7 linked regions of the Homo sapiens genome follow. The protein of the gene in region 4 purifies or fractionates together with the protein of the main gene of each other region. This does not show direct contact. Each region holds a gene or a part of one and is shown on either strand. Other genes may lie near its edges.

Evidence for each region.
Region 1: the proteins of MARK3 (region 4) and PPM1G purify together in Homo sapiens (affinity purification with mass spectrometry, with the first as the bait; one large-scale study listed by BioGRID). This does not show direct contact.
Region 2: the proteins of MARK3 (region 4) and FUCA1 purify together in Homo sapiens (affinity purification with mass spectrometry, with the first as the bait; one large-scale study listed by BioGRID). This does not show direct contact.
Region 3: the proteins of MARK3 (region 4) and DTNA purify together in Homo sapiens (affinity purification with mass spectrometry, with the first as the bait; one large-scale study listed by BioGRID). This does not show direct contact.
Region 5: the proteins of MARK3 (region 4) and SNTB2 purify together in Homo sapiens (affinity purification with mass spectrometry, with the first as the bait; one large-scale study listed by BioGRID). This does not show direct contact.
Region 6: the proteins of MARK3 (region 4) and G3BP2 purify together in Homo sapiens (affinity purification with mass spectrometry; one large-scale study listed by BioGRID and IntAct). This does not show direct contact.
Region 7: the proteins of MARK3 (region 4) and MTCL1 purify together in Homo sapiens (affinity purification with mass spectrometry; 2 studies listed by BioGRID and IntAct, with this or other methods). This does not show direct contact.

Annotation. Positions count from the first base shown.
Region 1 is NC_000002.12:27,399,592-27,403,091, forward strand, and holds part of PPM1G (protein phosphatase 1G), read right to left. Parts: intron 1-3,500.
Region 2 is NC_000001.11:23,847,934-23,851,290, forward strand, and holds part of FUCA1 (tissue alpha-L-fucosidase precursor), read right to left. Parts: intron 907-3,357; coding exon 716-906; intron 1-715. UniProt on the Homo sapiens protein: Alpha-L-fucosidase is responsible for hydrolyzing the alpha-1,6-linked fucose joined to the reducing-end N-acetylglucosamine of the carbohydrate moieties of glycoproteins.
Region 3 is NC_000018.10:34,716,798-34,720,297, forward strand, and holds part of DTNA (dystrobrevin alpha), read left to right. Parts: intron 1-3,500. UniProt on the Homo sapiens protein: May be involved in the formation and stability of synapses as well as being involved in the clustering of nicotinic acetylcholine receptors.
Region 4 is NC_000014.9:103,486,415-103,489,914, reverse strand, and holds part of MARK3 (MAP/microtubule affinity-regulating kinase 3), read right to left. Parts: intron 1-3,500. UniProt on the Homo sapiens protein: Serine/threonine-protein kinase. Involved in the specific phosphorylation of microtubule-associated proteins for MAP2 and MAP4. Phosphorylates the microtubule-associated protein MAPT/TAU. Phosphorylates CDC25C on 'Ser-216'.
Region 5 is NC_000016.10:69,242,664-69,246,163, forward strand, and holds part of SNTB2 (beta-2-syntrophin), read left to right. Parts: intron 1-2,938; coding exon 2,939-3,152; intron 3,153-3,500. UniProt on the Homo sapiens protein: Adapter protein that binds to and probably organizes the subcellular localization of a variety of membrane proteins. May link various receptors to the actin cytoskeleton and the dystrophin glycoprotein complex.
Region 6 is NC_000004.12:75,645,912-75,649,411, forward strand, and holds part of G3BP2 (ras GTPase-activating protein-binding protein 2), read right to left. Parts: intron 2,831-3,500; coding exon 2,728-2,830; intron 1,247-2,727; coding exon 1,118-1,246; intron 546-1,117; coding exon 427-545; intron 1-426.
Region 7 is NC_000018.10:8,824,056-8,827,555, reverse strand, and holds part of MTCL1 (microtubule cross-linking factor 1), read right to left. Parts: intron 3,386-3,500; coding exon of another isoform or gene 3,340-3,385; exon of another isoform or gene 3,198-3,339; intron 2,858-3,197; coding exon 1,324-2,857; intron 2-1,323; coding exon of another isoform or gene 1-1. UniProt on the Homo sapiens protein: Microtubule-associated factor involved in the late phase of epithelial polarization and microtubule dynamics regulation.

The sequences.
Region 1 (3,500 bases), on a different chromosome or scaffold from region 4:
TGAATCTGGACAGAGTGAGATTCTGTCTCAAACAAAAAGTTCAAACATCATTAGCCATTTAGCCATCAGAGAAATACAAATCAAAACTACAATGAGATACCATCTCACACCCACCATTAGTTATTATAAAAAAGGTGGATAAGTGTAGTGAACATGTGAAGGAACTGGCATCCTCATATATTGCTGGCAGGAATGTACGACGGTACAGCAACTTTGGAAAACAGTTTAGCAGTTTCTCAAAATGTTAAACACGTAGTTACCATATGACCCAGCACTTCCACTCTTTGGTATATAACCAAGAGATATGAGGACATATTTCCACACAAAAATTTGTACATAGTATCACTATTTATAATAGCAAAAAAAAAAAAAAAAAGTGGAAATCCAAAATGTCTATCAACTAATGAATGGATAAACAAAATGTGACAAATCCATACCATGGAATATTATTCAACCATAAAAAAGAACGAAACACTGATTGATTCATGACACAACATTGATGACCCTTAAAAATATTACGCTTGGCCGGGCGTGGTGGTTCATGCCTGTAATCCCAGCACTTTGGGAGGCCGAGGCAGGCGGATTGCCTGAGCTCAGGAGTTCGAGACCGCCCTGGGCAACACAGCGAAATCTCGTCTCTACTAAAATACACACAAAAAATTTAGCCGGGTGTGATGGTGGGTACCTGTAGTCCCAGCTACTCGGGAGGCTGAGGCAGGAGAATCGCTTTAACCCAGAAGGTGGAGGTTGCAGTGAGCTGAGATCGCATCACTGCACTCCAGCCTGGGCGACAGAGGGAGACCCTGTCCCCAAAAATAAAAAATTAAAATTAAAAAATTATGCTTAGGCACAACTATGATACATCAACTGAAAAATATCAGGCTGGGTGTGGTGACTCATGCCTGTAATTCCAGCACTTTGGGAGGCTGAGGTGAAAAGATTCCTTGAGGCCAGGGGTTCAAGGCCAGCCTGGACAACACAGTAAGACCCTGTCTCCATGAAAATAAATGAATAAACAACAATAATTAAAACTGACCTCCTGGAGATAAGAAAAAGAGTTAACTAGGAGATAAGAGAAAATTCAAGAATTGTTAAGTCATTAATTTGAGATGGAGTTCTGGGTCTTTTGCTTCCCTTCCATCAACTAAGTGAGGAAGGTTCCAACAGAAACAAATGGGAGTGCCTAAAAGAAAACTAGCATCTCTTTCCTGGTTACACAGGCAACAGACTTGGTGATCTGCCTGAGCTCTGTCTATCTGAACAGAAGGAGAGAATTTTAAAAAGTGCCCACTGGAGCCTGAACCATCCTGCTGGTATCCATCCAAAGGAGTCCAGCAGTATGAGGTCAAGGATACACAGCAGGTGGTAAAAGCCACAGAAAAGTCTAAAAACCAAAAGTGGAGATCAAGTCCCTCTGGGCCAGGCCTGGCTATTGCTGCAAACACAGAGATGGTGAGTGATAACTGGATATGAGACTGGAGTTTTAAAGAGATTTCTGATTCTATTAAGCTCTGTAAAATAAAACCTGCAAGGCACTGATCTAGAAAGAAGCAAAAGAACCTTGGGTCAGCAAAATACTTATTCTTAAATCTACTACAACAATGTATGTGTGATTTTTTTAAAAAGAAACTTACAGGCAAAGCTGAGGGGTAGAGGGAATACTTGGGGTGGAGAGTAATTTACTCTTCCAGGGGCCAACAAGCTTTAAAGTCAATTTCAAAAATACACATGCTTAGTAAAAGCATCCAGATATAAAAGGTAGTGTATTTAGAATTCCATTTATAAAATGTTCAGAATAGGCAAATTCATAGAGGTCATGTAAATTAGTGGATGCCAGGGGTTAGTGGACGGAAGATAGGGAGTGACTGGTAAAGAGTACAGGGTTTCTTTTTGGGGTTCTAAAACTGATTGTGGTGACAGTTGTACAACTCTGTTTGAATACACTACAAAACAGGCAGGCACGGTGGCTCATGCCTGTAATCCCAGCACTTTGGGAGGCTGAGGCAGGCAGATCACTTGAGGCCAGGAGTTCGAGACCAGCCTGGGCAACATGGTGAAACCCTGTTTCTACTGAAAATATAAAAATTAGCTGGGTGTGGTGGCGTGAGCCTGTAGTTCCAGCTACTCAGGATGCTGAGGCAAGAGAATTCGCTTGAACCTGGGAGGTGGAGGTTGCAGTGAGCTGAGGCTGCGTCACTGCACTCCAGCCTGGGTAACAGAGCAAGACCCTGTCTCGAAAAAAGAAAAAAAGAAGAAAAAAAAGAAAATATACTAAAAGCCACTGAATTATACCCTTAAAATGAATGAATTATACCCTTAAACCCACTGAATTATACTCTTAAAGTGAGTTCATATACTGTATGGTATATGAACCATATGTGGTATGAACCATACAGTATATGAACTCTATCTCAATAAAGCTGATTAAAAAGGAACCTGTAAGAAATAAATAAAATAAAAAGGAACCTGTATACACATTTTCAAATACTAAATATGATTAAAAGGTGTTGTTTTTCTGCTAGCATTGGGTCAAAAAGGAAAAAAAAGTTGATATACTTCATCTCTGAACTAGATCTAGAAAGAAACAAAAACAACTACACTGAAATCATACTCTGTCTACAAAATGTCATTAAACATCTTAAGCTCAGTTCTAAAGATTTGTTTCCAGATAATACAATGTCAAGAACTACTGATCAGACCTGTATAAATTTCTATGTTCAAATTCAAGCCCTTACCTCTCAAAATTCAATTCTAAGACTAATAACCCAATAGAAGATTAGAGGTTAGGGAAACAGTAGTAACAACTGCTAAGGAATCAGACAATAGAACTTTGTGTAAAATATCCTTGAAATCTTGAGGAATACGTTCTGATTGTATTTTCCAGTTGCTTGAGAACTTATAAGGCAATGGTATAAAATATAAAATAATTTCTAGACCAGGCATGGTGGCTCACACCTGTAATCCCAGCACTTTGGGAGGCCGATGTGGGTGGATCACGAGGTCAGGAATCGAGACCATCCTGGCTAACATGGTGAAACCCCGCCTCTACTAAAAACACACACAAAAAATTAGCCAGGCGTGGTGGCGGGCGCCTGTAGTCCAGCTACGCGGGAGGCTGAGGCAGGAGAATGGCATGAACCCGGGAGGCGGAGCTTGCAGTAGCTGAGACCGCGCAACTGCACTCCAGCCTGGGTGACAGTGTAAGACTCCATCTCAATAAATAAATAAATAAATAAATAAATAAATAAATAAATAAATAAATAAAATAAACATAAATAAAATTCCTCAGCCTGGGCAACACTGCAAGGCCCTATCTCTACAAAAAAAAACTTAAAAAAAAAAAATTAGCCAGTCATGGTGGCATGTGCCTATATTAGGCTGAGGCTGGAAGACCCCTTGAGCCCAGAAGGCTATGCAGTGAACTATGATCGAGCCACTGTAAAGGCAGATAAGTGTAGTGAGGATGTGAAGGAACCGGCACAAGAAATCCCATACTCCTT
Region 2 (3,357 bases), on a different chromosome or scaffold from region 4:
ATTGCTTGAACCTTGGAGGCAGAGGTTGCAGTGAGCTGAGATTCTGCCACTGTACTCCAACCTGGGTGACAGAGTGAGACTGTCTAAAAAATAATAATAAAATAAAATAAAAATCCAGCCTGTGGGATTCAGTTATAGCAACAGAAAATGGACTAAGACAACCACTAAACAGAAACTCATCCAAAACAGAGGGATTAATAGAGGGATTAGATCCAGAGACCTAAGCTCTCTGGTATAATAAAAGCAGTTCCCTTTAATTGAACACTGAGTTTGTGCCTGGCACTCATCTCATTTAATCCTCACAACACTATAAAGCATCATCACTCCATTCTGCAGTGGAAAAAATGGGGCCCAAGATCAAATAACTAGATCCAGAAGTCCAAGTATGAATGGAAAGAATTTTGGATGGGGCTCCGTACAATCCAAGCATTCATTATTACTATTTTTAGGGGGCAGGGTAATAATCTCAATAAATTGACTGATGCTTTGTTGCTCCTTCCCTTTTCACCAAACCCACTCTCTCCCTTCACTAGTCAAAGATAACCAAGTAGCCTGAGACATAACTCAAATGGGGTACAAATTTTATAGGAAAATAACCTTCTGGATTTTCTCAAGGCAACTTCCAGCCTGGCTTGTGACATTGTGGACCCAAGGAGATACCAGTTCCGGATGGGGCACTGTTCTGTTCTTACACACAACAGAAGACAAGACTCACCATACAGATGTTGTGTTCTTTTCCCATTGCACCCGCCATGGTTTGGAGGCATAGATAGCCTCCCCATTGATGCTCAGCCATTTCCCAACAGCAAGAAGCCTTTCTTGGAAGATGGGAACAATCAGTCCATCTTTAGTTGGTCCAATGTTCAGAAGATAGTTGCCTCCCAAACTTACTGTCTGAACCAGTTCCTGGAGAGAACAGAAACAATGAAAGTCTAGCTATGAATGCCAAGCCTGGCATCATGCTTAAAATAGACAGAGAAGAAAAAGAATCTAGGGCACACTCTGTTTTTTAAATATCCTCTGCTGTTTTAATTTTTTTTTTTTTCTTTTTGAGCTGGAGTTTCACTCTTGTCGCCCAGGCTAGAGTGCAATGGCGTGATCTTGGCTCAACTGCATCTCGGCTCACTGCAACCTCCACCTCCCTGTTCAAGCGATTCTCCTGCCTCAGTCTCCTGAGTAGCTGGAATTACAGGCATGCGCCACCACATCCAGCTAATATCATTCTATTTTTAGTAGAGACAGGGTTTCACCACGTTGGCCAGGCCAGTCTCAAAACTCCTGACCTCAGGTGATCTGCCTGCCTTGGCCTCCCGAAGTGCTGGGATCACAAGCATGAGTCACCGCACCTGAGCTAAAAATTCTCTCTCTATATATATTTTTGTCACTATAAAAGCAGGTTAGGCTCATGTGAGTAAATGAAAAATCAGGCTATATTATATTAACTTGAATTTCAGGGAGTGGCCATGGAGCACTTCCTGTGACACTGTACTTCTCATGGTGCTGAGTGCAGTGGGAAGGGTCATGCCCCAGAAACATGAGGTGTGGGCAGGGAAGCTGAGAATTTCAGGACATTCCTTACGCATTGGGCTATATAAATGAACATGCTGCCCCTTTGGGAAAACTGCTATAAAGAGATACGTTCTTTTTTTTTTTTTTTTTTTTTTTTTGAGACGGACTCTTGCTCTGTCTCCCAGGCTGGAGTGCAGTGGCACAATCTCGGCTCACTGCAACCTCCGCCTCCTGGGTTCAAGTGATTCTCCTGCCTCAGGCTCCCGAGTAGCTGGGACTACAGGTGCGCACCACCATGCCCAGTTAATTTTTGTATTTTTAGTAGAGATGGGGTTTCACTATGTTGGCCAGGCTGGTCTTGAACTCCTGACTTTGTGATCCACCTATCTCAGCCTCCCAAAGTGCTGGTATTACAGGTGTGAGCCACCGTGCTCAGCCAAGAGATACATTCTTTAAGACTTCTGGAGTGGGATTTGGGTGTGTGTGTTTTTACTGTGACCTTGAACAGGTATTATACATATCCAGGCAGCTCAGAAAAACTAAGGTTATATAGAGAAAATTTTAAATTCATTACAGAATTTGAAGAATTCAGACAGGCATGGTGGATCACACCTGTAATCCCAGCACTTTGGGAAGCCAGGACAGGTGGATTACCTGAGGTCAGGAGTTTGAGACCAGCCTGGCCAACGTGGTGAAGGCCCTGTCTCTACTAAAAATACAAAAATTAGCTGGGCACAGTGGTAGGCACCTGTAGTCCCAGCTATGCGGGAGGCTGAGGCAAGAGAATCACTTGAACCCGGGAGGTGGAGGTTGCAGCAAGCTGAGATCGTGCCATTGCACTCCAGCCTGGGCAACAAGAGCGAAATTCCATCTCAAAAAAAAAAAAAAAAGAATTAAAGAATTCATTATAAGAATTCATTACAGTACTCCAAGTGACACCACACCATTAACTTTTGATGTCTTCTTCTAGTCTTTTTCCTATGTAGTTAATTTTATATAGTTGTAATAATATGTAACTTATTTTATTTATTTATTATTATTTAAAAAAAATTTTTGTTTCAGACGGAGTCTAGCTCTGTCACCCAGGCTGGAGTGCAGTGGCGCAATCTCAGCTCACTGCAACCTCTGCCTCCTGGGTTCAAGCAATTCTCCTGCCTCAGCCTCCTGAGTAGCTGGGATTATAGGCATGTGCCACCACGCCCAGCTAATTTTTTTTGTATTTTTTAGTAGAGACGGGGTTTCACCACATTGGCCAGGATGGTCTCGAATTCCTGACTTTGTGATCCACCCTCCTTGGCCTCCCAAAGTGCTGGGATTACAGGTGTCAGCCACCGTGCCTGGCCACTTATTTTTATTTTTTAAAATAGAGATGGGGTCTCACTATGTTGTTTAGGCTGGTCTTAAACTCCTGCCCTCAAGCAATCCTCTTGTCTTGGTCTCCCAAAGTGTTGGAGTTACAAGTGTGAGCCACCACCATGCCCAGCCAATATGTAACTTTATTAAAAATAATAATAATAATAGAGATGGGGTCTTTCTATTTTGGCCAGGCTGGTCTTGAACTCCTGGCCTCAAAGGATCCTCCCACCTTGGCCTCCTAAAGTGTTGGCATTACAGGTATGAGCCACTGTGCCCAGCCAATATGTAACTGTTTTTTCATTCAGTGCTCTAAACATTAACCCATATTAAATTTGTCAACATTTTTATGGTTACCAGGAGTTCGAGACAAGCCTGGCCAACATGAAGAAACCCTGTCTCTACTAAAAACACAAAAATAAGCTGGGCATGGTGGCACGTGCCTGTATTCCCAGCTATTCGGGAGGCTGAGGCAGGAGAATTGCTTGAACCCGG
Region 3 (3,500 bases), on a different chromosome or scaffold from region 4:
TGTGAATCCCTTTACCCATGTATATGTGTTTGTCTTCACCGCTGATTTGCAAATAAGAAGTCTCATATCAAGTGGGAAGGGTAGATTTTTATAATTTCACTGAAATTCAATACCAAATGGTAAAATCTGGAATGCCTTGACTGTGAGAGAAAATAACAAAATATTTTAAATAGGGTATACATTCCAATTATTAGTTTTTGAAATTTATTCTAAAGAAATTTCTGCTCATATAAGGATGGGCAGAGGATAACTGGGCTTGAATAACTGGGCCACACCTACATTTAGGTGTGGTGGAGAGGCAGAGCTCCAGAGCAATCTGTTCAAAATTCTGTGATGCTGGAAATGCTCTATATCTTCTTAGTCCAATATAGTAACTACTAGCCACATGTGGCTATTAAACACTTGAAAGGTAGCTAGTGCGACTGATGAAACAGATTTCAAATCTTATTTAATGCTAAGTAATTGAAATAGCCACGTGTGTCTAGTGCTATCTTAATAGACAGTGACACTCTAGAATTAAGCACAACAAATAGGGTCTTTTATTTAATATCGGAGGTTAATTTCAAGCACCTCTGCTAAATTCGGATGATATAGATAGGACAAGAAGGTGAGTATTCTTTGTGCAATTTCCCTTTTATCTACAGAAATACAGATCAATGAAATCCTTTGATTCTAGTGACTGCAAGTCCAAGATTTTCCAGAGAAGTGTTGGTCTCAAGTAGTCTGTAGTTTTGTTTGCTTAAGAATTTTAATGCTCATTCATTTTCTCATTTATTTTTTTTAAAAAACCTTATATTGAATATATTTGTGTTGGACACTGACATTGAAAAGATAGTAGTAGTGCAGAGTTCCTTGATTCAGGAAATCCTTGGAGTATCCTAAGGAGTAAATGGTGCAGAGCAGATATTACAGAGGAGGGGAGAGAAAATGCTGTGTGGAGAAGGAAGCACTGGGATAAACCTTAAAGAAATGGCCAGTGTTCAATAGGAAGCTGGGGAAAGGAGGATCTTGAGAAACAGAACAGTATGGGAAAACCAGGGAGAGATGAGAATCAGAAATGTCTGGAAATGTAATAATGGCAGCAGCACAGAAAATAGACTAGTGTGTAGACAGAAATGAGTCCAGAAGTTAATGTTACAATCCAGAACAAGTATGAGGGAGGTTATGAGCTAAGGGGATGAAAGTAGAATTTAAAAAGAGTAGATTTGAGAGGTGTTTTGTCTGTTGCTTCTCTTTACAATAAGTCAGGTAGAGAACAACTGATTTATCTTTTAAGCCCCCTTGAAAATTGTCGATTACTGCATACAATGCTGGAGCAGGATTTTTGTGGCCAAGGAAACTGAGCGTATCTTACAATATGCAAGTTTTTCAAACAGGACCAACTTACATAAATCATCCTCTTGGAAGTAGGCGCAACTACATCATGTATGTAGTTGAAATGTATGACACATGACAATTTTGTTTGGGGATGTAATGTAACTGAGGTGGAAACTTAATATTTATGAGACTTCCTCTTTCGTTAAAATCTTAACATTCTTTGATTTTGACAAATAGTGTTTTTATTTCTTCCAAAAATACAAGAATTTTAAAAGTATATAATTAGGCATCGTTTAGAAAGGTCAAAAAAGCAATCGTCTGTTGAATTTATGATTTGGGTACATTATTCTTCTCCAGTCTTTACCCCATTTTGATGGACTTTTTTCTCTTGGCAGTATATCCAGGTTCATTTATAGGTGGGAAGACAGTAGAAGCTGTTATTCCAGCATCAAAGCCCCCACTGTTTTCTAATAAGACGTTAGGTTTTATTTCTTCCAAAGCCTTATGATCACTGCAGTCAAAAAAAGAAGGGTGGAAAATGCAGAAAAATGGTGGAGGAGGTGGAGTATGGTCTTGGTCATAAAGAAATGAAAGGAGAAAGGTATTACTGAAGAGTATGGGCATTAGTCTGACTGTAAGGAGGACTTTGGCAGTAACTACAAGCCAGAGTGAGTGAGGAAAGAATAGCAGCCATTTGGGCAATGTGCTGACCATGTGTGGCTTGATACTAGGAAACCTGAACATACAGCAGGACAGAGAGGAGCACATCATGTGAGAGTTCCATGAGTTCTCGGATTTAAGAAAATAGAAGACTTTCTAAGTGCCAGATACTGTTCTAAGTACTTTTTGTTTAACCTATTTAAGGCAATTAACCCTTTTTTTTTGGAGAACAGTCATAGAACATGGAAATCACTGAAGAAATGTAAGTAGTGGTGGGATGCAGTGGCTCACGTCTGTAATCCCAGTACTTTGGGAGGCTAAGGTGGGTGGATCACCTGAGGTCAGGAGTTCAAGACCAGTCTGGCACCAACATGGCGAAACCCCGTCTCTACTAAAAATACAAAAACAAAACAAAAACTAGCCAGGCATGGTGGTGTGGGTCTACTGTAGTCCCAGCTACTCAGGAGGCTGAGGCAGGAGAATCACTTGAACCAGGGAGGTGAAGGTTGCAGTGACCCCAGATCGCACCACTGCATTCTAGCCTGGGTGACAGAGTGAGACTTCATCTCAAAAAATAAAAAAATAAAAAAATAAGTAGTTATTATCTCTCCATCAATCCTCACAACAACCCTATGAGCAGGGTACTTTTACCATCTTTATTTTACAGATGAAGAAATTAAGGCCCGAGAGGTTAAGTAATCCCCCAAACAGCATACAGTTAATCAGAGAGAGCTCTATTTAATCAGCTCAACTACTACGCCATCCTGCCTACTCTTAATCTATGTTAATTTTATAATATGTACAGAGATGATACTTGTAACGTGCTCACAAAGTGCCTGACATATAGTAAACCTGCAAAAATGTTAGCAATTATCATTATGTAATAAGATTTAGAAGACTTTCCGGTATTTATGTCATTCTACACCGACACTGCTCAGAAATAGTAACAAGATTTTTAGGGCAGCTCTGGATTTTTCTTATGTAAAGTGTAAAGAAAGCTTTGTTTAGGAGCATGCCCTTATAAATTGGAGAAACTCTTCTTCTACCCAAATACTGTCAATCAGTTTGACTGGCACAGTTGAAGTTTTTACCTCAAAGAATGGGCCTCATTGAAATGTTCTATATACTCATCTACATGGCTCTGACCTTCTGACAGAGAATGACTGCTGCTAATGGTACTAATAAGAGCAAATGGAATTCCCTTCCAAGCTTGGTATTTGAATAATATGTCAATTTGTTCATTGCCGTCTTACTAGGAATTAAATGCGCTAATATTTTTATAACCTAAGGGAGCTAGTGCGAGGTTGGCAGCCAGAAAAGGGAATCAGGCCAGAGGCTGGCCAAGGCATAGTCATGAGGGGGTGGAAGGGTCACAAAGTCAAAGTCAAGCAGGTGGACCCAGGCAGAACCCAACCAGACTCTAGAACAAAGTTAGGTTCAAAGTTTGGTTCTTATCTCCTTTCCCTATAATGTGGGCTGGTAGGGGTGGGTTGATTGTCATCCTCTGTACAAAAAGAATTGTA
Region 4 (3,500 bases):
AACTGTTAACAGACATGGTAAGATAGAGTGGCTGGAAGTCTGCAGTTTCATCTAACACACACAGTTACCGGACAAAACTACCCCCAGGAGTCTCACTGGGACACATTATTTGGAATTCCAGCTCAGTAATCATGTCCTTGGAATTCAAGGGCAGTTTCTTTCCTTTAAGGATAAGTAGGAATACAGCTCTTCCAGTGTCTTTCTGCAGAAATCCTTTGGAAGGATTAAAACCTGGAAACTGGCAAGTTCTTCCTTTCCCTCACTCCCCATACACAGACTAACGACATCTTATTGGTGTCAACTTCCTAGTAGCTCTTCAGGTGGCCCATCTGCTCCACTTCTACCAGGGCCTCAGTATAGAGCCTCGCTCCTTGTCTTCACTGGGTCCCCTGCCTTTGCCCCAACACCTCCAATCTATTCACCTTACAGCTGAGAACTTCTTAACATATAAACCAGATCTTGTCACTCATCTGCTCATACTTCTACAGAACACCAAGTCTTTGGTAAAAAGTTCAGTCTCCTCGACTTGGAGTGCAAGTACACATCCCCAGGCCCCTGAAGTCTGGCCCCTGCCATCTCTCTAGGCTTTGCCTTCTATCATTCCCTCCTGGAACTCAACTTTCTAGCCTTCCTGATGATGTGTGGTCCATTGGTCAGGCACCAGGTCAGAAAATGTTTGCAGGAGTTATTCTCTTGGTATGGAGGGCTGGGATCTTTCTATTCACTCTTCAAAAATGAACCAGATGTCGTCATCTCTATGAAGTGTTATCTGATCCATTTTCCCTCTGAGAGTTAAATCACTTCTGTTTTTAGCTCATGCATGCCACATTGTATCCTAGTGACCCTTCTCTGCTGGAGGTCCCTGAAAACACAGCCCAAAATCTTGTCAATGTGCCCCCCACCAGTGTAAGCAGAAAGCCTGGCAGGGCAGGTATTCAACAAACGTTCTCCTAACAGAGCAGATTAATCAATTAGCAACTGGAATTCTGATAGCCCCAACATAAAGCAGATACGTCTTTAAAATCAAGAACTGCTTGTCCCTGAATTAAAACATTTTTATTTAAATTTTTATTTTTGGAGACAGGGTCTTGCTGTATTCACCCAGGCTAGAGTGCAGTGGCACTATCACAGCTTGCTGCAGCCTCAACCTCCTGGGGTCAAGCGATCCTCCTATCTCAGCCACAGGAGTGTGCCACTATGCCTGGCTAATTTTTAAATTTTTTGTAGAGATGGTGTCTCACTATGATGGCTAGGCTGGTCTTGAACTCCTGGGTTCAACTGATCCTTCTGCCTCAGCCTCCCAAAGTGCTGGGATTATAGGCCTTGTGAGCCACTGTGCCTGGTTCTGTCCCTGCATTTTTGTTTGAGAATTCTGCTCTCTGACTTGGGAGAATTTATACAGTCTGAGAAGGACTGGAAACAAATGTCTTATAAAGGCAAAAATTTATCCAGTTTCGTATTTCTGCCACTCAGTATCCATTCTTTTCCTGCAGCAACAATAATGAGATTTTGCTGTGGTGGAAGTAACTCTAGGCCCCACACAGATCAAGGAGACCACCTGAGGGCTTCTGCTTGAGCACAGCTGTGTGTGGGAAGAAGTTATGTCTGATGGTGCCGAGCCCAATCATGGAACTACGGCCAAGGAGGCAGAAGCAGATGGACCGTAACTCTAGCCCTGGACTTTTTTTAGTTATATGAACTAACAGCCCTTTTATATTTAAGCCTGTTTAGACTGGGTTTTCTGTCACCTGCAACAGAGACAGTTCTAACTGACTAAGGTTTTTAAAGAAATGCTCGGTTGTTTCTTGTACATGTGTACAGACACACGTACACATGAATGCACACAAATGTTATTTATTTTTTTTTTTTTGAGACGGAGTCTCACTCTGTCGCCCAGGCTGGAGTGCAGTGTGATCTCTGCTCACTGCAAGCTCTGCCTCCTGGGTTCACGCCATTCTCCTGCCTCAGTCTCCCAAGTAGCTGGGACTACAGGCACCCACCACCACGCCCGGCTAATTTTTTGTATTTTTCGTAGAGACGGGATTTCACCATGTTAGCCAGGGTGGTCTTGAACTCCTGACCTCGTGATCCACCCGGCTCAGCCTCCCAAAGTGCTGGGATTACAGGTGTGAGCCACCGCGCCTGGCTACACAAATGTATTTTTCTAACAAGATACAGCTAAATACAACTATCTCTTGTGCCCTTACCTTTCAGGGTGAGTCCAGGGTCAACACACTCTACCTCCAGTTGTTGACTTTTTTCTTGCCCAAATTAGGAGCTAGTATCAGTAGATGTGCCAAGAAAAGCAGGGGAAGAAGATGCAGGAGTTGTTTGACCCTTTCCCTGGTGAATACAAATGGTCCCAAAGTCTTTGGAGAAGGAAAAGGCTTTTAGTCAGCTTGCAGGCAGGAGGGTGCTGCATCGATTCCCAATGAAGCACACTGCTGACAGGCCAAGCTAGATCTTTAAGGCATACAAGCATGGTAAGAGGGTGTGGACAGATGCTTTGCAGAAAAAAAATGGATCCTCTAGAGACCTAAGAAGGAAATGTAAATTTATTTTCTCATTATAAATTAAAAAAAAAAATTTTGTAGAGATAGGGTTTCGTCATGGCCCAGGCTGGTCTGGAACTCCTGAGCTTAGGCAATCCGCCCGTCTTGGCCTCCCAAAGTGCTGGGATTATAAATTATTAACTTGAGGCTGGGCGTGGTGGCCCACGCCTGTAATCCCAGCACTTTGGGAGGCTGAGGCGGGTGGATTGCTTGAGGCCAGGAGTTCCAGACCAGCCTGGCCAACATGGCAAAAACCCATCACTACTAAAAATACAAAAATTAGTTGGGTGTGGTGGCGGGCCCCTGTAATCCTAGCTACTCAGGAGGCTGAGGTATAAGAATCGTTTAAACCCGGGGGTGGTAGCTGCAGTGAGCTGAGATCATGCCACTAAACTCCAGTCTGGGTGACAGAGAGAGACTGTTTCAAATTAAAATAAATAAATAAATAAATAAATAAACTTTTTGACATACTAATTTTAAAGGCAATTAAATAAACTTTTTAGAAATTTAATCCATGTCACATCATGAGTTTCACAAAGCAAGCAACAAAATATTTCCGATTTTTCTGATTTCTACAGTAGGCCTAACACCCAGAAGGAAACAGTAAACTCAGTAAGATGTTTGCAAATTTCAATTTTGTACAATCAAGCTCACAAAAATCCTATTTACAACAGGCAGCCCCAACATCACAATGGTCTACATATATATTCTAAAAGGTCATCAAGCTAATTGTTATGAAATTCGAATAATATTTCCCCCCAGAAAAGTGTTAAAAATGATAGTTTTATTTCCTATTCTAGCCCACAATCTACATAAGCAAAACAGTAGCAGCATTACATTTTTTTAATAATTAAAAAATTTTTTTAAAGTTTTTGTGGGTTCATAGTAGCTGTATTACATTAATTTTTTTATTTTTATTTTTTTGAGACTGGGTCTGGCTCTACCGTC
Region 5 (3,500 bases), on a different chromosome or scaffold from region 4:
AGAAGAGAAGGGATCACAGTAATGCTTTTGGGGTGGGAGGAAGCCCACCTTCACGTTCAGTAAAAGGGATACGTGAGGCCGGGCATAGTGGCTCAAGCCTGTTATCCCAGCACTTTGGGAGGCCAAGGCGGGTGGATCACGAGGTCTGGAGATCGAGACCATCCTGGCTAGCACGGTGAAACCCCGTCTCTACTAAAAATACAAAAAATTAGCCGGGCGTGGTGGCGGGCGCCTGTAGTCCCAGTTACTGGGGAGGCTAAGGCAGGAGAATGGCGTGAACCCAGGAGGCAGAGTTTGCAGTGAGCTGAGATTGTGCCACTGCACTCCAGCCTGGGCGACAGAGTGAGACTGCATCTTAAAAAAAAAAAAAAAAAAAAAGGGATACATGAATGGAAGAAAGAAAATTAGCTTCAGCATCTGAACACTCAAAACAGTTTGTAAACATCAGTGTTTAATTAAATTATTTTGAGGATTATCTTCAACTATCAGGAAAAATGAAATGATTCTGAAATATGTTGTGGATTCTGAGTTGAACTGAAAGCTCCATGTGGGGGTGTAAAGGCTCTGCTTATCCAGCCACGTGTCCAGGTTAAGGCCTTAACATAGGACTGAAACAGAAGACTGTTAACTTTTTGCCATTCCCAAACATAGAAACAGATGTCCATCCACAGCTCTTCAGCCATTCTGGATGGCTAATTAGATGGGGGTATGGACTGCATTGCCATCAACTCAGATAAAATTCATTGCTCTTTTAATAAGGCAATACATAAATTGTATGTGTATGTCTGTTTTTGTTTTAGGATGTGTGTAGTAATCAGTTCAGTGATGCTACTGTGTGATTGAATGAACTGAGTAGATCGTTAAGGGTTCTTTTCTAACCACTATATTATTCAAGAATTCATTTAGAATGTCTTTAATTTCCTCCAGTTGGTAGCCCAATAGTGTACTGCCTTAAATGTTCAAAAAGCATGCCTCTGCCATTTGCAGTAACTGGAAACCTTAGGAATTTCTGCCAAAGTCCTTCAAAGCATAAAGCTGAAGTATGTATTGAAATGCTTGAGTCAGCTGCTCAAGGGTTATACTGACTGCACTCCTGCTGATTTTTCTAGGGTAAAAAAATCTCCTTGGTGACCTGAGGCAGCTACCCAGAAGCACGTGTATTATAACTATGCACAAAAAGCACAGAGATATACTACATCTAAATTCTAGCATTGGAATTGTTATATTTTTTATTATTATACTTAATTTCAGTAAATCTTTTTTAATAACGTATAAGAAAATAACTTTAACTCTTCTACTGATTACCATTAAAATTTTTTAACTCTTCTCTAACTTTCTAATTTAGGGAAGGAAAAAGAAAGGTACCTACTGTATTTATTGAATGTTTAGTATGTGCCTGAAATTTTTATTTGCTTAGTGTTACTCCCATTTTGTAGATGAGGACCTCAGAACAGTTAAGTGCGGTCACATAGCTTTGAATAGCAAGCACAGTTAGGATTTGAACAAGGTCTTCTTGATTCCAAAGGCATCTCTATGACCACATCATGCTGTAGAATGAGCTATCAACTATTAGGCCTATAAAAGACTATCAACCTTATTAAATAAAAAAACTAAGGTGCAGCACGGTAAGCATAATGTACCACCATATGTATGATCAGATATACACGCATGTGTATGTGTTTATTTTCATACATGCTTAGCATACCAGGCATCTCTTTGAATGGTTGCCTCTAGGAATGGAGACAGGGTAGCTAGAAATCTGGACTTTTATTATAAAACCTTTTATACCTCTTGAGTTTTGTTTTATGTGCATGTATTACCTATTCACAGGAGAAACTGTGTGTACCACTGTGCCCAGCCAGTTTGTCTAGTTTTTGAAACAAGAACACCATGCCTCGAGTGACAGTAATTGTAGTCATGACTGAAGTAAAACAAGTATTTTATGAGTTTTAAATTTGAACTTAAAAAAGCTTCCTATCTACTAAAAGCTTGATTTTCATTTGGGGCCACATTAATGGAAATAGAGTATTTTGAACAAGCAAGGGGGATCAGTTGAGTTGGCTTTGTGCTTATTAGATCATACCTTATCTTGAATATACTTTATTTTTGCACTTGATTTTAAGAACTGTAATGGCCTGTTTACATAGCTGTCTCCCCTGCAAGGCTGGGCATTCCTTGAGGGATAGAATCCATGGCTCATTTGCCCTTGTGTCTTTACTGGCTAGCCTAATTCCCAACACTTGGTAGGTAGCTAATAAAAGTTGATTGAGTTGAATGGAAATAGAAATACTTAGCTTAGTATGGGGAGGAGAGAGAAGAGAAAAATCTGTCTTCAGATAATTACAGAGTTCTCATGTAGAAGAGAGATTAAGTTTGTTCTATATGGCTTGAGAAGACAGGGAACCAGTGGGTAGAAGTATGGAGAAGTTTCTAAAGGTTGAATCATCTAAAGCCTAGATGGGTCTGTCTTAGAATCTATCTCCAGGGGATTCATGGCTCTTTAACTTACTTTTTTCCCCCATTTTTTGTTTGTTTGTTTGTTTGTTTGTTTTTGAGGCAGAGTCTTGCTCTGTCGCCCAGGCTGGAGTGCAGTGGCACAATCTCACTGCAGCCACCGCCTCCCGGGTTCAAGCAATTCTCCTGCCTCAGCTTCCTGAGTAGTTGGGACTACAGGCGCATGCCACCACGCTCACCTAATTTTTTGTATTTTTGGTAGAGATGGGGTTTCACTACGTTGACCAGGCTGGCCTTGAACTCCTGACCTCAAGTGATCCACCCGCCTCGGCCTCCCAAAGTGCTGGGATTACAGGAGTGAGCCACCGCGCCCAGCTCTTTCCTCCACTTTGTTATAGATATAGCATGTATGTGAATACTTTAGTTATCATTTATTATAGGAAGCAAAATTACTAACCTTCTTCTTTGATTTTTTTGTTCATAGTCAAGTTCATCCGAGAAGTAACACCATATATCAAGAAGCCATCATTAGTATCAGATCTGCCGTGGGAAGGTGCAGCCCCCCAGTCACCAAGCTTTAGTGGCAGTGAGGACTCTGGTTCGCCAAAACACCAGAACAGCACCAAGGACAGGAAGATCATCCCTCTCAAAATGTGCTTTGCTGCTAGAAACCTAAGCATGCCGGATCTGGAAAACAGGTGAGGTGTACCTAACAAGAACATCATACCTACAGCTTTACAAACTTAAGGACATGTTGCAGTATTATATGACTCTGTTAACTCAGTTATACAGAGGAAAACATCTGTCTGAGGTGAGAGATGCATTTTTGGGGTTCCACATTTTAAGTTATTCTACATATATACATGTATATGTGTAGAAAAAATTTTGAACAGACACACAAGAAACTGTTAATGGCTTTACCTCTAGGGTGTCAAATAAGACTAAAGGGGTGAAAGAAAGAGGGGGCATCTTTTCTTCCTTTTATGTCTTTCTGTAATGTTGTTATTACTTTTTTCACTATGAATATGTATTACTTTATAATTGAA
Region 6 (3,500 bases), on a different chromosome or scaffold from region 4:
GTGATACTCCCACCTCAGCCTCCTGAGTAGCTGGGATTATAGGTGTCTACCACCATGGCCGGCTATTTTTCTTTTTTTGTAGAGACAATGTCTCACTGTTGCCCAGGCTGGTCTTGAACTCTCCTGGGCTCAAGCAATCCTTCTGCCTTAACTTCCCAAAGTGCTGGGATTACAAGTGTGAGCCACTATACCCAGCCAAAATTCTTAACATGCAATCTTGCAATCTTTCCCACCTTCTTCAGCAAAGCAAGTAACAAAATTTAAAATGATCTGCAAACTAACAAATCTTTATTCTTTGCATAAATACCATTTAATAACTATTTTTAGCTTTATTATTAAAAGATTTTCTATGGTTTTTAAATACCCCAAATTAATATATACAACAGAAATAATAAAGTCTTGAATTATGCCCTTTAAATCACTTACTTTTGCAATTAAGATTCTCTGAACTGGTTCAGAGTCATCAAAAACCACAAAACCAAAATTTGGAAGCTTTCCCCCAACACCCTTGGTATTGATGCGAAGTTCCACAACGTTTCCAAAACCTGTGAAAATATACATTACATCAAGGGTTAAATATTTTTAACAGAATACCTTGATGGCTCTAATTGTTCAGGATGAATATCGTTATCTCCCCGATCCATTTTAAAATAAAACTCGCAAGCTTCTACACACAGTGATAGCCAAGGTACGTTTACTCAAGCAGGCAATCCCCTAAGATACCAAGTAGCCTGCCCGCCTGCTGTGTTACCTTTCTGCATCTTTGGTAGTCCTTTCATAAGTAAAGTTAACTGCATAATTTTGGAAAGACAATGTATTTTCTCCTAATATATTGACCCATTTGCCAAATGAATCCTTTATCTCTGAATTTATGACTGATTTATCCAGCTGTTTCTTCTAAACACTACTGAGCCAGGCCAAATCAACACTAAGCAGTCACTGAGAAACATGTGAGATAAGTCATCTACTCCCTTCTGCACAATTAAGGTGGGTCTGGTAGCTGGACACAGTATAAAGAGAGAAACATTTAAAAAAAATAGTTATTAAAAAAGCTCCATATGCCTCTTGCTTAATTTAAAATAATTTAAAAACTCCAACAGCAAAATAAATCACTTACTCATGAAGAATTCCTTTAGCTCATTTTCATCAATATCATGTGGCAAGTTACCAACAAAAAGTTGATGACTATCTGGATAGCGAATTATTCTACGGTTGTCAGAGTCATTCTGTTCCATATCTCCTCTGCCTGAGAATAGAAATAGAGCAGATACTAAAGTTTACAATATCATAAAAACTACTTCAAAGGAGTGAATGTAAAAATCACTTAATATTGATATTCCTGTTTTAGTTTAATAAGACTAGGTGAGCTTCTTGAAAAAGAGGCAAAAGTACTTATTACTAGTAGGTTAGAAAACAGCATGACACTAAAATGTAAAGTGAGGACAATGACTAGGTTGCTAAAATAGCTTCTTCTAGATCTACTGGATTATACAAAAATCAAATATTAGTACTACAGGTATTCCTCCTTAACCAAACTGTTGCCATCACCCAGGAACCAAGCAGATTTCAGATAGTGAGGTATAGCTTACTAAATATTTGCTTAGTTTTTTGAAATTCAAAATTCTTTGGCTTTATGACATTACAGCAATCAGTAAATTTTAACAGCAATCATCACATTTATGCAGTCTATACATATTAAGTGTGTATGTATATAGATATACATAAAATCTTATTTGATTCTCCCAATAACACAAGGAACACAGTGAGGAAAATAGGCAATACAAGAATAATTTGTGTAATATTTGACATAAAAGAAGCTCAGAATTTAAGGGTTTCACTCAAGATCCCAAGTTTAATCACTGACAAATTTAGGACTTCTAGTTTGGTAACATATCACTTTAAAAATTCACATTGTAAATGTGATATATACTATCTCCATCTCTCCCATCTCCTCCCCAAAGCAATCTAAACATTCTTACAGAGTTCAAATAAAAGTATTACATGTGTAGCTAACAAGGTAAACAAGTCAAAAATCATGGCAACTTACTTAATACCTAAGAATCAAAATGGGCTTATTGTTTATCTGTAAAGAGATAAGACTGCTAAGAGAGTAGGTTATTGGCAGCTTGGTTTTGAACTCTTAAAACCAGTGACTAGGCCGGGCACAGTGGCTCATGCCTGTAATCCCAGCACTTTGGGAGGACGAGTAGGGCAGATCATGAGGTCAGCAGATCGAGACCATCTTGGCCAACATGGTGAAACCCTGTCTCTACTAAAATACAGAAAATTAGCTGGGCCTGGTGGCGTGTGCCTGTAATCCCAGCTACTTGGGAGGCTGAGGCAAGGGAATCATTTGAACCCGGGAGACAGAGGTTGCAGTGAGCTGAGATCACGCCATTGTACTCCAGCCTGGCGACAGAGCAAGACTCCGTCTCAAAAAAAAAACAAACAAACAAAAAAAAAAAACAAAAAACCGTGACAATAACCAAATAAGACTTAAGTCTTTTACACCTTCAAAATATGTCACCATGGCATGTCAACCAATCCTCCCTAAAAATTGGTTATTTGGCCCCAGACACTATTTAGCAGGTTGCTCACATCACATCTTTAAGCAATTTGAGACTATATGGGTCTGTGTATAGAACGCATCATAGTTTTTTGTTTAAGTTCAGTCTTTTACAGCCTTACAAATGTTAAATGCTAAAGGCTATAAAGGAGCTGACTCACCTGGTCTTGGTCCTCTAGGAGGAAAACCAGGTCGTTCTCTAGGTCGTTGTTCACGCACACGAGGTGGCTGAGATTGAACTTCTGGTTTAGCTTCGACTCTTGGCTAAAATATAAAGAAAAAAAAACATTATAAAAAACACTCCACTGGAGAAAAACCAACCAAAGCACCTAACGACAAGTCACTAGCAGACATAACAGTAGTTTTAAGTTTAGAATGTTTTTAACATAGTGTCCTATGTATGAGAAAAATAAATTTTTATCAAGATATTCTGTACCAATCTAGGACTGTAGGTAGCTTTTGTTTTCCCACTTAATGCTGTGTAACTCACAATAAGTTGCTTTTTACAGTCACATTTTTTCATTAAAGTTATATCAACACTGAAATAGCATAAAAGGTATTGCTACCAAAAAAAAAAATCACAAAAATGCAAGATGAACCACTCCATGTAAATACATAAACAAAATTAAAAGCCATCTTCATCTTAGACAAGAATACATAACACATAATTTCTGAAAATCTAATTTGCTATCCTTCAAATGTAACAGTGCTCAGTAGTATTGCCTAAATCTCTGCCCATAACCTTAAAATCAGTATTTTTATAGTTCAAAGTATAAAAATTAGCTTGCTCTAACACCTGAAATTGCTACCTGTAAGGTTAAAATGCATGTTAAAAAAATGACAGAAACTTATAGGAACTTGTATGTAGCATCTCAAATAGTTAAAGTCCTTTAGCTCCCTACTGTTCTTCCTTATGAGAAAAATATGCATTTGA
Region 7 (3,500 bases), on a different chromosome or scaffold from region 4:
CCTGAGAACATTCAACCAGCAGTTTGTCCTCAGAGCATGCAAACAACTTTATCACAAAGACTCAGATCTTGGAACATGTAGGCCATGTAGTATCAATATTTGTATTAGGTGTGAACCATATGGAATTGCCACTTCTGTAAGCCATTGGCAGTTCCACAGGTCTGACCTATTCAGATTTCAAGCCTGCATTCTGAGTTAAACATTCATTGGTGGGCCAGGCTGGGAAGACAGCCATCATTTACCCTCTTGTGGGAAACGTGGGCCAGGTGAAACAGGCAATACACCTTCCTCCTCTCCCTGCCCATGAAGCCAGGGCTGCTTGGGTCCTGGCGAGGAAGCAGCGGGCAGACCAGGAGCAAGCTGCCGTCCTCCTCCTCCTCTGACCCCCGCCATCTGCGGGAGCAGCCTGGCTCGGAGAGTGCTCATGGGGCCAGGTGTTCCCAGTGTGAAGCCTGTTCATCCGGACTCCTGGCGAGTTGGAATCACTCGCTGGACAGACACGTCCTCTCTGTGCTGCACGAACCACAAAGTGGCATCACCATAGCCATCACCACCAGCATCAACATCAGGCTTTCATTTTGCTCATTGTTGAAGTGGAAATGGGAAGCGTTTTGTAAAGTGGTGTACAAAAACACCACATGTGGATGTGCATCAGAACCCAATTCACAGTGGATTGATTTGTGAGTAATATCAAGGGCAATAATGATAATCATATTGTATTAGGGTAGGATTTTGATTTTGTCTATATGTTTCACTTGGTTTTACTGCTAGGGGGGCTCATGGCCACAAAGAGGGTAAGTGATTTGTGAGCTGCCAGATGGCTGTTTTGTAAGGAAGCCAGCCCAGGAATCGAGATCTTGTGGCTCCTGATGAGAAGTGCTCGTGCTCATGTGGTCCAGACCCTCTCCAGCTCACCTCATGCTGTCACATATGAAGGTCTGCAGTATGCAGCAAGCCTGACACAACTATCCCATAGTTTGTACATGTGCACGAATTCACACAGAAAGAAGGCAAACTGACCCCAAATAAAATGCCCTGATAAATAAGGATCAATCACTTAAGACTGGTGACAGAACCCAAATCAAACCATGTACTATATGATTTCCCAAGGACAATAAAATAACATTTTCTTCAAAAAAGTTGCTCAGGGCTTTTTCTGCCTATTCTATTCTCCCATAAACCTAACACCTCCCCAGCTCCCAATAACCAATCATGGACGATTCCTGAGATCAAATGACAGAGCACAATCCCAAGTCCCAACCTGCCCCACAGCTAAAGGGAAGAGCTGGTGGGGAAGGGTGTGGGGCACTCAGCATTCATTACCTCCATGGGCCCTGGCTCGGCTGTGTCCCCCAGCGAGTGGCTGTCACTGTGGAGACCCGGGGGCCCGTGGGCAGCCTGCCTCCTCTCCTCCTTTAAGGCATGTTCCAGCAGCTTCTTGTTGAGGATCCGGGCCACGTTCTCAGTGAGCGTGTAGCCAGGGGGAGCAGATAAGTCCTGCTTCACTGGCGTGCCCTCTCCCCCTTCCTCCCTGCACATCTCTGACCCCACCCCAATGGGGCTAGGCGACCTTCCTCGGGAATTGGTGCCTGTTTCCTGGCCTGGGCCCAGCTCTGGTCGGGGCTCTGCTGAGCGAGACCGACTGCCGGCCCGCAGCCCCTTCTGGAAGGGGTCCTGCACCACGGGGCTGTGGTCAATGATGTTGAAGAGGCTGGAGAGGCCATCATTAATGGTGGTGTGCACGGGGCTCTCCCTTGTGGTGGTGGAGCGGGCCCAGGCTGACTCACTGTACCCTTTCTGGGCCATCCCTGGTGACGTCCTGTTATTTGGCTGGTCGGCTTTGGGGAGGGGCTTCCTCTGCAGCTTGGGAGAACCATACTTGGGGGAGCAGCATGTGCGTTCAAACTTGGCCTGCACCTTCTCGATGGCAGGGGCCACCTGTCTGCTCCTAAGGCTCCGGGAAGGAGACGACACGGGTGTAGCACCGCCCCCAGCCTTTGGAGTGAGACACTTGTGGGGGCTGCTGGTGACACCGCTGCCACGCAGGGCTTCAGTCTGCAAGCCCACACTGATGGTCTGAACAGTCTGGGTCCCCATCGTCCGGGACCCATTGGTCTGGCAGGCCATGTCCTTGACTTGCAGCTCGCCAGGGCCGGAGCAGATGGCATTCCTGACAGAGAAGGCCACCTCCTTCATGTCATCACTCAAGTTCTTGGACATCTCCAGGCTGTGCAGTGGGGAGGCAAACCCCAGGGAGGTACAGAGGGGACTATCAAGGGGGCGCCGTGCCCCCTCCACATAGTCCCGGGAGTGCCTGGGGGAGGTGCAAGGCCACCTGCTGAGCATGGGTTCTGGAGGGCCTCCCTTGGTGTCTCCCGGGCTCCCTCTGGCTCTGCTTGTGGGAAAGGGACCCTCACCACCTGCCGCCGTGATGCTGTCGACCCTGCGCACGGCAGGCGGGCTGTGTAACACGCGCAACCCCGACTGCTCGGTGAGGACGTGGCTCCGCAGTGGCTGCTTCTGGCAGTGCTCTGGGCTGGTCATGGTGTCCGTGGTCATGGTGACACTTGTGGTTAGGTACCAGGAGGAGTCGGGGAAAGGCTCTGTGCTGTCCTCGTGCCCTGCCCGCCCCACCTCGGTCCTGTCGGCCCAAAGGTCCGGCCCCCCACCATTGTGGCCCCTGTTGGGTGTGTAGTCCCAGCTCTTGTTGAACTCCTCGATGTACTTGAGGTCGTCTGGAGACAGGGGTGGGGTGACATCCTCCTTGCTGCTGGTGGACGGCAGGCCCTTCTCAGGCAGGAAGGGGGAGATGTCCATTAGACGCTGGAACTCAGACATGGAGGACACGGACACCGCCCTGGGAAAAGCAGAAAAGAGGGTGTCAGTACCTGCCAGGGAGCCTCTGACACACCACAACACCCATGTCCTGCCCTGCATGAGAAGTGTCAGTGAAGGCACCCGCTGCCACCCACACCAGGAGAACACTGTCAGCTGCTCATGTGCTGCACTCACAGACTTACCCTGCGGGCATTTATTGGACTCTGCGTGGCTCTGGAATTGTTCCTGAAGCCTTGCATTGGTCAGAATTTAATACAACCAACTCTGGCTCACACCCGTAATCCCAACACTTTGGGAGGCCAAGACAGGAGAATCACTTGAGGCCTCAGTGCCTCAGTGAGAATTCTCAGGAGACTCACTCGGACCACAGCTGAAGGGTGAAGACGGTGAGCCACGGCGATGGCCAGGTTTTGGCAAGCTGCCACCTGATGGACACAGATTTGGTGTGGATTCTTCCATGTGTTAGCACTTTCAATTTGCCATGAGTTCGCTGAATGCCTCTCACATGCCTGGCAGGTGCTGCAGGGGTGCCAGCAATGCTTCCAGGCTAAGACAGAAAGTGGCCGGAGTGCTCGGGCACGACTACCACCAGGGCAAAGAAGTGGTGGTCAGGAACGGGGCTGGGGCTGCCTGTGCCTGCTGGCTCAGGCAACAGAACCTCT